3 linked regions of the Homo sapiens genome follow. The protein of the gene in region 3 purifies or fractionates together with the protein of the main gene of each other region. This does not show direct contact. Each region holds a gene or a part of one and is shown on either strand. Other genes may lie near its edges. The genes, in order: PRELID3B, STK38L and SCO1.

The links.
Region 1: the proteins of SCO1 (region 3) and PRELID3B purify together in Homo sapiens (co-immunoprecipitation; one large-scale study listed by IntAct). This does not show direct contact.
Region 2: the proteins of SCO1 (region 3) and STK38L purify together in Homo sapiens (pull-down; one large-scale study listed by IntAct). This does not show direct contact.

What each region holds. Positions count from the first base shown.
Region 1 is NC_000020.11:59,039,884-59,043,983, reverse strand, and holds the start of PRELID3B (PRELI domain containing protein 3B), read left to right. Parts: upstream 1-1,197; 5' UTR 1,198-1,253; coding exon 1,254-1,285; intron 1,286-4,100.
Region 2 is NC_000012.12:27,313,641-27,317,288, forward strand, and holds part of STK38L (serine/threonine-protein kinase 38-like), read left to right. Parts: intron 1-863; coding exon 864-1,018; intron 1,019-1,374; coding exon 1,375-1,477; intron 1,478-1,648; coding exon 1,649-1,710; intron 1,711-3,648. UniProt on the Homo sapiens protein: Involved in the regulation of structural processes in differentiating and mature neuronal cells.
Region 3 is NC_000017.11:10,694,720-10,698,844, reverse strand, and holds the start of SCO1 (protein SCO1 homolog, mitochondrial), read left to right. Parts: upstream 1-1,311; 5' UTR 1,312-1,337; coding exon 1,338-1,610; intron 1,611-3,013; coding exon 3,014-3,104; intron 3,105-4,125. UniProt on the Homo sapiens protein: Copper metallochaperone essential for the maturation of cytochrome c oxidase subunit II (MT-CO2/COX2). Not required for the synthesis of MT-CO2/COX2 but plays a crucial role in stabilizing MT-CO2/COX2 during its subsequent maturation.

The sequences.
Region 1 (4,100 bases), on a different chromosome or scaffold from region 3:
GGACAAGGCTCATCTCTGAATGAAACCACATGCCACCTCCTCCTGCCCCAGCAATTCTTAGTCATTCTTTCATCCATTGATGCAACAAATAATTGTCATTTAGGAAGGGGGAAATCACTGAACAAGTCTGGCAAGAGCCTCGCCCTCAGGGGCTTACAGTCTAGCGGAAGTTACAACAAATAAACTAGATGACTCCATTAATTCATTCATCCCACAAATAGCTATTGATTTTTTTCATTTTTCAATAAGTAGTCATTGAGCCTTGACTATATGGGAGACACTGAGGATGATTTTTGAGCAAGACCGGCAAGATTCTTGCCTTCAAGAACTCAGTTCGATTGTGAATTTTCACAAATAAATTAACAAGATGATGTCAGAGGGGTAAGTGCTATAAAAAATGCAACAGGATATTGTGACGGAGCAGAGCAACAAGGTGAGAAACGGTGACGAGGGAAGTCTCTCTGGGAGAGACATCTCAGCTCAGATCCATCCTATGCACCTAGGGCAAGGTGTGCCCGGCCAGGAAGCTTTTCTACCCGACCCCTGGCACCGTGCTTCCGGACCGCATCCCTCGTAGGGGTATTATTCATGGGCAGGTCTGATGTTAGCTTCTCCGCGTCACGCCTTATTTATCCCCTCCGAGGGCTGCAAGCTCCTGGCGGGCAGGTGGGACTGGCCCAGCTGATCGGCTGGGTGGCTGGTGGATTTGGGAAAACAGCCCGGGCTGACCCAGGAGGTGGCTGGAACTCTCTATAGGGCACCAGGAAATTTTGCACAAGTGACCACCACAACGAACATCTATGTCAGCAGGCTGACCGCATGCGTCCACACGCCTCGAAATGCCAGGCGAGGATGTGCTGGGCCAGAAGGACAAGGAGGGCCAAGCGGGCGCGCAGGCACCTCCTGGACCTGACCCAACTCTGCCCAGAGGTCAAGGCTCGCTACAAGCCCGCCGCGCCTGCGCAGCACAGCGCCCGCGCCGGCCCCTCCAGCTGCCGTCGGCGGCACTGCGCCGGCGCGATGCGCCCGGCGCTAAGAGGCGGGGTTTCCTTGCGCCGCGCGCAAGGCTGGGGCAAAACCCGGGCCGGGATAGGGCGTGGGGCCGCGCGTCTGGACGTCCCTCGCGTCGGGCCCGACAGCGCCTGCGCACTGCGCCGCCGGCTGGGGTGCTGGGGGCGGGGCAGGGGCAGGTGTAGCCTCTGTGCCTCGTTGTCCCCTGGCGCTACCCGGACATCTCTCAGGGTGCCGGCACCATGAAGATCTGGACTTCGGAGCACGTCTTTGAGTAAGTTTGGGGCGCGGGTCGGCTCCGTGGAGGGCAGGCACGCCGGCCCTGGAGTAGAGGCGAGGCAGAGGCGGCCCGCAGGAGGCTTCTAGGCGTCGGGCCTAGCGAGGGGAGCGAACTCTGAAGCCTGCGGGCCCCGGCGACACGGAGGGCAGACCAAGGTCACGACCCCGAGGCGCCCTAGCCGAGGGGACGGCTCCGACCTCCAGACCCAGGCGGCCTTGCGACCGGCAGGGCTACGGGGTCACTTCCGGGCTGTCCCCCACCATGAGGTAGCCTCGGGCCGGCGGCCTCCTGAGGTCCTGGGGGCGTCGCGGAGCACGAAGCCCTTGACAGCACTCAGGGTTGCCCCATCCCGCCCTGTGAAACCACTTTGGGACGTGGACCCGAGGATCCCAAGAGGGAGGTGTTGGTTTTCTCCAGAGTGTACTTTCCCTGGCCGCCGTTTGGGTGGAGTTTCTACCTTCGAATGTGAATTTCGGGTGAACTCTGACCACCAGGATGTGAAGCCTTTTCACAACTCGTTCATCTACGCAGCAGAGCCTTGGATTTGGAATTCAAGGTCTAGCTCTGGCTGTAACAAGCGTGTGACCCTGGGTTACCCATTTTCATCTGAGAGATGGAAAAGGACGATCGTCAGGGCCTACCCGTGTTAGCTCTTTGAGGCCACGTTCAGGAACATCTTTTTGGATAATGTGAACTGTTTACTAACGAAACTAAGCCTTGAACCAGTTGGATGTGGAGAATTATATTCTCTTCTAGGTCCCTGATTCCATTTACAAAAGAGCCACAAATTTAAGCAGCGAAATCCTTTTTTTTCCCGAGTTACCTGCTCTGTTCCGCTGATCTTAATGTCGTTGCCACACTGTTTTAATTAGTATAGCCTTGTAAATAAATATGCTACAAAGCCATTTATGTTTTTAAAACTGTCTCTGAAGGCAAATTTTTTTTAAATTTCTTTTTTGAGGCAGAGTCTCGCTCTGTTGCCCAGGCTGGAGAGTAGTGGCGTGTTCTTGGCTCACTGCAACCTCCGTCTCCCGTGTTCAAACGATTCTCCTGCCTTGGCCTCCCAAGTAGCTGGGATTACAGGCGCCCACCACCGCGCCCGGCTAATTTTTGTATTTTTAGTAGAGACGGAGTTTCACCATGTTGGTCAGGTTGGTCTCAAAGTGATTCGCCCTGGTCAGGTCGCACCTGACCTCAGGTGATTCGCCCGCCTTGGCCTCCCAAAGTGCCGGGATTACAGGTGTGGGCCACTGTGCCCGGCCTCTGAAGGCAACTTTTAAAACGTTGTCCGCATTTGTACTCAGTGGGACACATCCTAGGGCCTGCTGTATCCTGCAAAGTATAGAATACTGGAATCAGAAGGAAGCTTTCTTTTCCCCCTACTGTTTAGTCTTTTTGGGAGGAAAAAGACCCGAAATTTGTGGTCATTTAGATGTTCATTAACCTGGTCGCATTCATCACTAGTCCATTTCAGCTCCGAGGATGTTTAATTTCAGTCCTCTTCCAGGTTTGCATGCTTCAGTCCTCTTCTGGGTTTGCATGCTTCAGAGGTTCTCGGCACTCAGTCTCCCTAGAACTGTCTTCTCCCATATCTTCCCTAACTCTTCTTCCTGGCTCATCCCCTCCTTCCCTCTACACTCTTTCTGCCTTTGTCTTCAGCGCTTCCCTGTCTTTTCCCATTCAGTGTAAATGTTCAGTGAGATTCTGTGTTGGCCTTCCTATATTGGATTTTACCTGTGATCTTAATTTCTTTTTTGTTTCTCTTTTCGTCACAGACTTTTTTTTTGTCCTGGGAGAAGCAGCCCTGATCCGTGCTTTCTCCCCACATAATCTGAGCTGTTTGGTCAAAGTCCCAAATGATAGGTATACATTTATGGCACCCAGATCTGTACCTTGAGCTCCAGCCTCTCTTGAGCTCCGCTTTTCATTTTCAGGTGCCTGTTAGGCATTGCTACCCTCGTGTCCCACAGGCCCTTAAAACTCAGCCTGTCTGAAATTGAAGTCATCATCTCCCCTGACAAATCTGAGCGTTGTTTCTGATCTTTAGGATGTCACTCTCTAACAATGTCTAAGTCATCATTCTACATCTTATCTGTCTTTGATTTTCCAACACTTTTCTTCTGAGGCCTATAGTTGGCATCCAGGTGAAGTCATTCATTGATTCCTTCAACTTATAGAGATGCCCAGTATGTGTCAGCCACTGTTCTTTGGATTGATTACATTTTCATAAGTAAATCAAGACCTCGATGCTGCGCCAGTGGAGTTAATAATGTCCTCACCTCGTTTCAAAGGTGAAGAAGTTGGACCGGTCAGTGAGCCATAGCCAGGTCCTCCTGATTCTACTTTGGCGTGGTCTTTGAATGTCTTCCATTGTGAGATCTTTTCCACGTAATTATGTTAATACAGCTCAGATTAATTGCTGGAAGATTAATCATAATAAGTATTGTTTGTAATGTTTGAGCTGGTTATGGTTCATAAAGCAATCTTGAGCCAAGCTAAGTCAACATCAGTGGTTTCAAGTTGGTTCAGAAAGGAGAGATGGACTAAATTACAAATAATGCATAACCACCCTGAAGTCATGCGATTATTAATTTTTTAGAGAGGGTTGGGGGAAGAGGTAAGGGCATGGAAGCCAGCTAACCATGGCATATGACTGGATGGAGACCTGGGGAGGGTTCATCTGATTTTCATTTTAGAGAGTTGCCTTGGTAAGAATCAGTGCTTGGCCTGTATGCTTCGATTTGTCGGGACACTTCAGATTGATGAAGCAACTCTGCTTATATACCTGCATTGATTGCTGGATAAGGCT
Region 2 (3,648 bases), on a different chromosome or scaffold from region 3:
CCAGAGTGTTGGGAATACAGGCGTGAACCACTGCCCCTGGCTCCCTATTTTTTTTAAAGCCTCAAAAAATATATGAAAAAAATGTAATCAGTTGTCAATTCTGTGTTGTAAGTGCACCAGTGTTTACAACAGTTAAAACTGTTAAAACTTTTAAAATTCCTTGAAAATAAAAGAATGTCTGCAGGTGCCTTTTTTAGTGGGATAATGTCCCACTAAACTCTAAAAGAATATATTTCGTTTCCAGGTGCACTTATTCTGATTTTTTTGCAGTTTGACATTTTCCTCAGCAGTTAATTCTAGAAGTTGAGTGGTAGATATTACTTCATTATCAGCTCTTTTGTGATTTGATTTCACATGGTCTCTGCCTTAAAACCATTAAAAGTCATGAAACTTCTGCTATGCAATAGCACTTTTATTTGTCCCAAGATGTGGTTAGAAATATACTGGGTAGATCATAAAATGCAAACTCAGGAAAGCTAGCTGGGCATGGTGGCTCATGCCTGTAATCCCAGTACTTTGGGAGGCCAAGGCAGGCAGATAGCTTGAAACCAGGAGTTTGAGACCAGCCTGGCCAACATGGCAAAACCCCATCTCTACTAAAAATACAAAAATTAGCTGGGTGTGGTGGTGCACACCTGTAATCTCAGCTACTTGGGTGGCTGAGGCATGAAAACTGTTTGAACCCAGGAGGCGGAGGTTGCAGTGAGCCATGATCACACCACTGCACTCCAACCCAGGCAACAGAGTGAGACTCTGTCTCCAAAAAAAAAAAAAAAAAAGTAAAAAAAGCAGGAAAGCTTTTACAAGGTATTCCACCTTTGAGGCATTTTCAATAATAATATATTTGACTATCCTTTATTTAGGTGACATGATGACATTGCTAATGAAGAAAGACACCTTGACAGAAGAGGAAACACAGTTCTACATTTCAGAGACTGTTCTGGCAATAGATGCGATCCACCAGTTGGGTTTCATCCATCGGGATATTAAGCCAGACAACCTTTTATTGGATGCCAAGGCATGTGAATAAACTGGTGAATTACTAGGCTGTTGATTATTTTTTAGAGCAGTAGGGCTGATTTTGTGAATGGAAATCAGCAACTGCAATTTAGAATATTGCTAAACAACATTATATGATAAGGTACTAGGAGAGGACTTGGGAATTAAATGACAACAGGGAATATGGCTCTCTTTTTATCTCCCTCCATTTTCTACTTTTAAAAATCATCATCAGATACTTAAAATTTTACATTTTACGTGTATAAATCCCAAGCTAAGAATTTTTATTATAATTGCCATTTAATAGAGGAGTTTATAACAAGGCTTTTTGTTTTCAAAGTTAATATGATCTAATTTTACTGGATTTTTTTTTAGGGTCATGTAAAATTATCTGATTTTGGTTTATGTACGGGATTAAAGAAAGCTCACAGGACTGAATTTTATAGAAATCTCACACACAACCCACCAAGTGACTTCTGTAAGTTTGGTTGTTGTTTTTCTTCTTTCCCCTGGTTAAGATACTGTAGAGAACAGAAGGTTCTTTCCCTTTCCCCACTCCTTAATCCACTGTGTTTTAGATGTATATGTATTTTCTTTTTGTGGAGAGCATTTTTCCCTCGTGATTACAATTCCATATTGTTGAAATTAGCATTTCAGAACATGAACTCAAAGAGGAAAGCAGAAACTTGGAAGAAGAACAGGAGACAACTGGTGAGTCAACCAGTTTTTAAGAGAATTTTATGCCTTGGTTCTAAAATCTTACCTGGTTTTAACTTGATTATTTTTATCTTTATAATAATTAGTATTTACTTCATAACAATGGTAGCGCTTGCTCTGGGATCACACAGTTTTCTTAGTTTCTCTGTTAAGTTTCCTTGCCTGTAAAGCAAAGTGTTGGTTTTTACTTTGTAACTTTAGAGTAGTTTACTGAGCATACCTACAAGTAAGCTGTTTACTAGTAATTAGCACTTTAAATAAAACTCACTGAGGTGAATGCAATTGTAATGAATGCCTTGTGATTTCCATTTTTCCATTTTTCATAACTGTGTTACAAATCCTGATACAACAAATATCAATCAGCAAGTAAGGTGGTTGTGAGTTTCTAAAAACTTCTTTATAGACAAAGTAAACAGGAAGTTTGGGATGTAAACAGTGTTACAATAAAACAGATAAAATTTGAAAAAGCTGGCTTTGCCACAGATAAATTTAATTACTCCTTTAATATAGAATTACATTATTTTTAACCCCATACTATTTCCTTTCTATAACTGAGCAAATAGAAGAATTGCTTCCCCTTTCTCCTCTTTCCCTTTGTCCTGTTAACATGGTCCATCAACAGTCTACAGGTTAAGAATGTGCCTTAGGATTTTCTTTTTCTCATTTCTTATAAAATGCCTGGCACATACGGACACTCTATAAATACTTGTTCAACCAAATGATGAAAGGAAAACTAATTCAGCATTCCCTCAGGAAAGTAAACAGACTGAAAAATAATAGGCTAATACCCTCTAAAACCAAATAAAATGACCTTTGCATTATTGAGCTTATTATCTCATTAACCTAAGTAACTGCAAAAACTTGTAAAACATTTCAGTATTTTTAAATGTATTGAGTTACACATTAAGGAGAAAAACTTTGTTCTACTTTTAAAATGTGTCCATTTTAGATCAGGTTTTGCAATTGAGAATAATTGCAATATTCCCTATTTTTAAAGGGGAAAAACTGAATACTGCTCAAAATTATGGTGGGGGAATTCTGTACCCCCCTATTTACAAAATATTCATGGGTGATTACTCAGGTGTGTGTTTTATTATTCTCATGGCCAGTAGTTGCCAAGCCTTAGATCGAGTGTTTCCCAAGGGAGAAGTAGAGAGGACTCAGTGTTTGGGGCAGGAAATTTCTTTAGCACCTGGATCCCCTGCCCTGTAAATGCCAGTTATGTCACTGAGATGACAAAATCTGTGGTCCTACATTTTGCCATGGCCCCAAGAGTACTACCCCTGGTTGAGAATTACTGCCTTGTAGAAATCATTTTTGTAAGATTTTATATGAATTAAGAATTAAAAACTGCATAGCTTCCTAAAGGATAAGCAGTACCCTGGAATTACATTTATAATGAAAATACCTCATGCTTATTTTTGTAGTTTGTAGTTTACAAAACACATGCCGTTTATTGTTTCATCTTCATATCAACTCTATTAGGGCAGGTATTATTATTCTAGTTTTATGTAAGCAGAAGCTGAGCCTCAGAGAAATTGAATAATTTGCCCAAGAACACATTAGTAGTGAGTGGGGAAGCCAGGTCTTCTAGGTTCAACTTTTTCATTCTTTTTGAAATAGACTGAAGGCTATATATATAAATAACTTAACTGAGCTTCTTGTGGGGGCAGAAATGATATATTCTTATAAAATGCCTGGCACATATGGACACTCTATAAATATTTGTTCAACTAAGTGATGAAAGGAAAACTAATTCAGCATTCCCTCAGGAAAGTAAATAGACTGAAAAATAGTAGTCTATAACATATTATCTGACTCACTACCTACCACTAAGCCTTGCACATGATAAACATGCAAAATAAATACAAGTGAAAATTTAACTCCTCTATATATTGCTTTTTCCAGTAGTAAGCCATCCTCAGATAGATA
Region 3 (4,125 bases):
ATAAAAGAGCAAAAATCCTACCCACAGGCAACTATAAGATAGAAAAAAATAGTTTGATTAACGACTTGAAGTGCTGAACAAACATTTAAGAACTTTGGCAGAAATTTCTGAAAATTCTAGTCCAACCGCGAATCAAGAAACACAGGTAACACTATGTTCCGTTACTGGGTTAGAGAACAGAACAGTTGGCTAGTTTGGCTAACTCATAGAAAACAAGCAAACCAACCATGCTCTGGTCCAACAATCATCAGAGCACGAGTTTCTCCTACTCAGAGTCGGTCCCATGGGGGAAAAAAAAGCCACACAGGAGCGGGATCTGTAGTTAAGGAAGATAATTAGAGGACGATTTTCCTTTTTTTATTTCTCTGTATTTTGTAAAGCAACCACCGAGGTAGGGGCGGGGAGGGAGTGGTTAATATTGCGGATATTAAGATATAAATAAAGGCAGATGAAATGAAGTTAGACTTTCACAAAGAACGAAAAACCTACGAATGCTCTTGGCCTCATTAACAAGGAACATAAGCAGTTCCAGATGAGGAACCCATAACAAACTTCAAATAACGAAACTGTAGGGAGCAAGGGAGTCCGTGAGAGTATTTTAAGAAACTGGGACCCAGGAAGACTAAGTTAACGGATGGGATATCATGCTGTCTATATTTCTTTACACACTGCTATGCTTTATTAATTAGGTTACATTATAATGTTAAATAACTAGAAGCGCTGGGCATTTAAAGTTCTTCCAGACCGCCCTAACCACTCAAATTATCCTAATTAGCAATTTTTTTTAAGTTAAAGACTATTTCAATCGCAATGGGTCGGTTTCTATTTCAAAGATGTAAAGGAGTCAACATTCTGGCACTTCCTCTTGGCCGGCAGGACGAGGTTGACAAAGTCGGCCAGACAAGGTAGGGTTATGGGGGCTGCCCAGTCCCGTGGGTCTCTAGGCAGTGTGTTCTCTCTTCCGAGGTGGGGGTGTCCCCGGCGCGAGGAGCTAGCTGTGGTCACCGAAGCCCACGACCAAAGCGGGGGCCCCCAGCGCTTGGGGCCGCCTTGCCTCGGCCCAGCCGCGCACCTGGACCCCTAAGGCAGCCCCCTTCCCGGCGCTCCGCTGTCCCGCGGCCCCGCAGCACCGCCCAGCCCGCGCCAGACCCGCCTCCAGCCGCAGGGAACTACCTACCGTGCGCCGGCCCCTGGGCTGAAAGGCCTCTGACTACGGGCTATGTAACAGCGCCACCAACGAGCGGGACGGACAGAGCGACTCCTTCCGACTTCCGGAGGAAGCGGAACGCTACCGGAAATCGCGGGGAGGGTCAAAGGAGACCCGGTCTCCGAGGCTCATGGCGATGCTGGTCCTAGTACCCGGACGAGTTATGCGGCCTCTGGGTGGCCAACTTTGGCGCTTCTTGCCTCGCGGACTCGAGTTTTGGGGCCCAGCCGAGGGGACTGCGAGAGTCTTGCTGAGGCAGTTCTGCGCGCGGCAAGCGGAGGCGTGGCGTGCCTCGGGGCGCCCTGGCTATTGCCTGGGAACCCGGCCCCTCAGCACTGCGAGGCCGCCACCCCCGTGGTCGCAGAAGGGCCCCGGAGACTCCACGCGCCCCTCGAAGCCCGGGGTGAGTGCACACCTGGAACCCTTCTGGTGCTCGTCGCGGCTGTCGGCCAGCCCAGCGGCCACATCCCACTTGGTCGTAACCTCAGACACTACTCCGCCTCCCCTAAAGTTGTCCTTAGCTTGCGCGCCTTACCTGGGTCATGGAATTTCATCCTACATTTCCCGTGCCTTGCGGGTAGTCCCAGTTCTCCACAGAGAACTTGAGACTTTACACCCTCTCCACGTGGCTGGATGCCCCGACTTGGATTTTATGTTAGCGTTTCCATCAAAAAAAAAAAAAAAATTAAGTTTCAGGTTTTCTTAAGGGTATGAACCTAAAGTTTACCGTGATTGAGAAGTCAGAGGACTTTTATAATTTGTCACTTGAGCCCCATCCAGAGTTCCATGTATACGTTGAAATTGAAACAAAAAGTGGAACTTAGTTATGTGTGGATCTGCCTTTTTCTTGGGGTTCTCTCGAGTTCTAATTCTGACCCAGAAATAACTTGAGAGCCACTACCCTGTGGTAAGAGAAGTGGGTTTTTGGAGCTACGGGAAGGTTAATGAGTTAGGCCTAGTCTAGTTGGCCAACATCATCTTCATTTGGGGAGTTGAATAAGGGTACAAAGAAATAATGGGTGTAATTTGCAAGAAGCTCCACTTTTAGATTCCTCTTCTACTTTGGCATTGTTACTTCTGGAAGCCAGAGTTAAGTTAACCTCCCAAATTTCGTTTGGTCTATTTATCTCAGTATCAGCATAAGCAGATAATTGTTTTTTGTGTGTGTGTTTTTGGATTTTGGTTTTTGTTTTGAGACGGAGTTTTGCTCTTTTGCCCAGGCTGGAGTGCAGTGGCCCTATCTCGGCCCACTGCAACGTCCGCCTCCCGGGTTCAAGCGATTCTCCTGCCTCAGCCTCCCGTGTAGCTGGGTTTAGAGGGGTCCGCTACCACGCCCGGCTAATTTTTGTATTTTCAGTGGAGATGGGGTTTCACCATGTTGGCCATGCTGGTCTCAAACTCCCGACCTCAGGTGATCCACCCGCCTCCGCCTCCCAAAGTGCTGGGATTACAGGCGTGACCCACCGCGCCCGGCCATAATTGGTTTTAAAGTCATTACTGGAGCTAGGGTCACACATAGTAACAATCGTGGTACTTGAGCTTTTTTTTTTTTTTTTTTTTTTTTTTATTTACATGAAGAGAACTGACTTAGGGAACTTTCCCCTGGAGATGAATGCCTTTGTAGTTCAGATCCCAGACCTAACTGCATCCACAGAAACTTTGAGCATTTTCTCATCCCTGAAACATTTTGCACATTTAACATCATGGCCTGTGTGTATGTATATTAAAAACTACTTTAATAAGTTTGTATGGTTAAATGTTTGCATCTTACTAGAATTTTTATGTTTGAAATCCCTGCCCCAGTAGCCTGTTTCCTGGAAGTCTTTAGCAATCACATTTGCTATTGGAGGAGCTTTACTGGCTGGAATGAAGCACGTCAAGAAAGAAAAGGCAGAGAGTAAGTAGATTATCATCTGCTCAGCCCTGTATAAAGGTCTTCCTGGCTATGGACTAGCACCTTTTTTGTTGTTTTTTAGCTTTTTGTTTTGAAACAACTTTAGATTTACCAAAAAATTGCAAAGATAGCATAGGTTCTACATACCTTTCACCCAGCTTCCCCTAATATTAACATCTTGTATAACCATGACACATTTTTCATGACTAAGAAATTTTAAATGGCACACAACTATTAAATTACAGATTGTATTTGGATTTCACTTGTTTTTCTATCAATGTCTTTTATTTGTTCCAGGATCCAAGCTAGGATACCACTGCATAACAATGTTAAAAGATATACTGTGGATAGATTTGACTGGGCAAGATGAAATCTGGAGGGTACGAAGATGAGTAAGATGTAGTCGAGCCTTTGAGGTGCACACGGAAGGGAAACAGACACAGAAGTAAAGTATTTTACTAGATGCGATTCTGCCAGGCCAGAAGGAAGCTTACCATGTTGTGAGAGCAAAAGCAAGTCCCAGCCTTGAGATTTGAGAAGGCTTCCTAGAGATCAGGCAAGGAGCATAGTGCGAGTAGATACTGCATGCCCTCTGTGGATGAGGGGGAGGTGAAAAGAGCCTGGTCAGGAAATGCCAGGAACTGCTCTGGATTAGCATCTTGAAATATTTAGAAATTATTTATAAGAACTTTGCATTTTAGTGAATATCCTAGGACTTTTAAGATTTGGTTTAGAGGTTTTAGGTAAATCTTTAAAGTATTGCTTAAATCTTTCCATTCTTTGGAGTCTCTTTTGATAACATTATATACAAAGGTTAATGATTAAATCTGGGAATTCATAGGCTTTAGGAACTTAGCAGTGTTAAGTTTTGTACTGACATACATATATATGAGACTCTTTGGCATAATAAGTAGTATTGGGTAAGATTTTCATAGTCTAATAAGCAGTAAGTTTCTTTAGTTTCACAAAGAAACAAAAGCTAGGAAAGTTGTGGCGGGAAAATTCTAGAATATGGAAGCTTTTT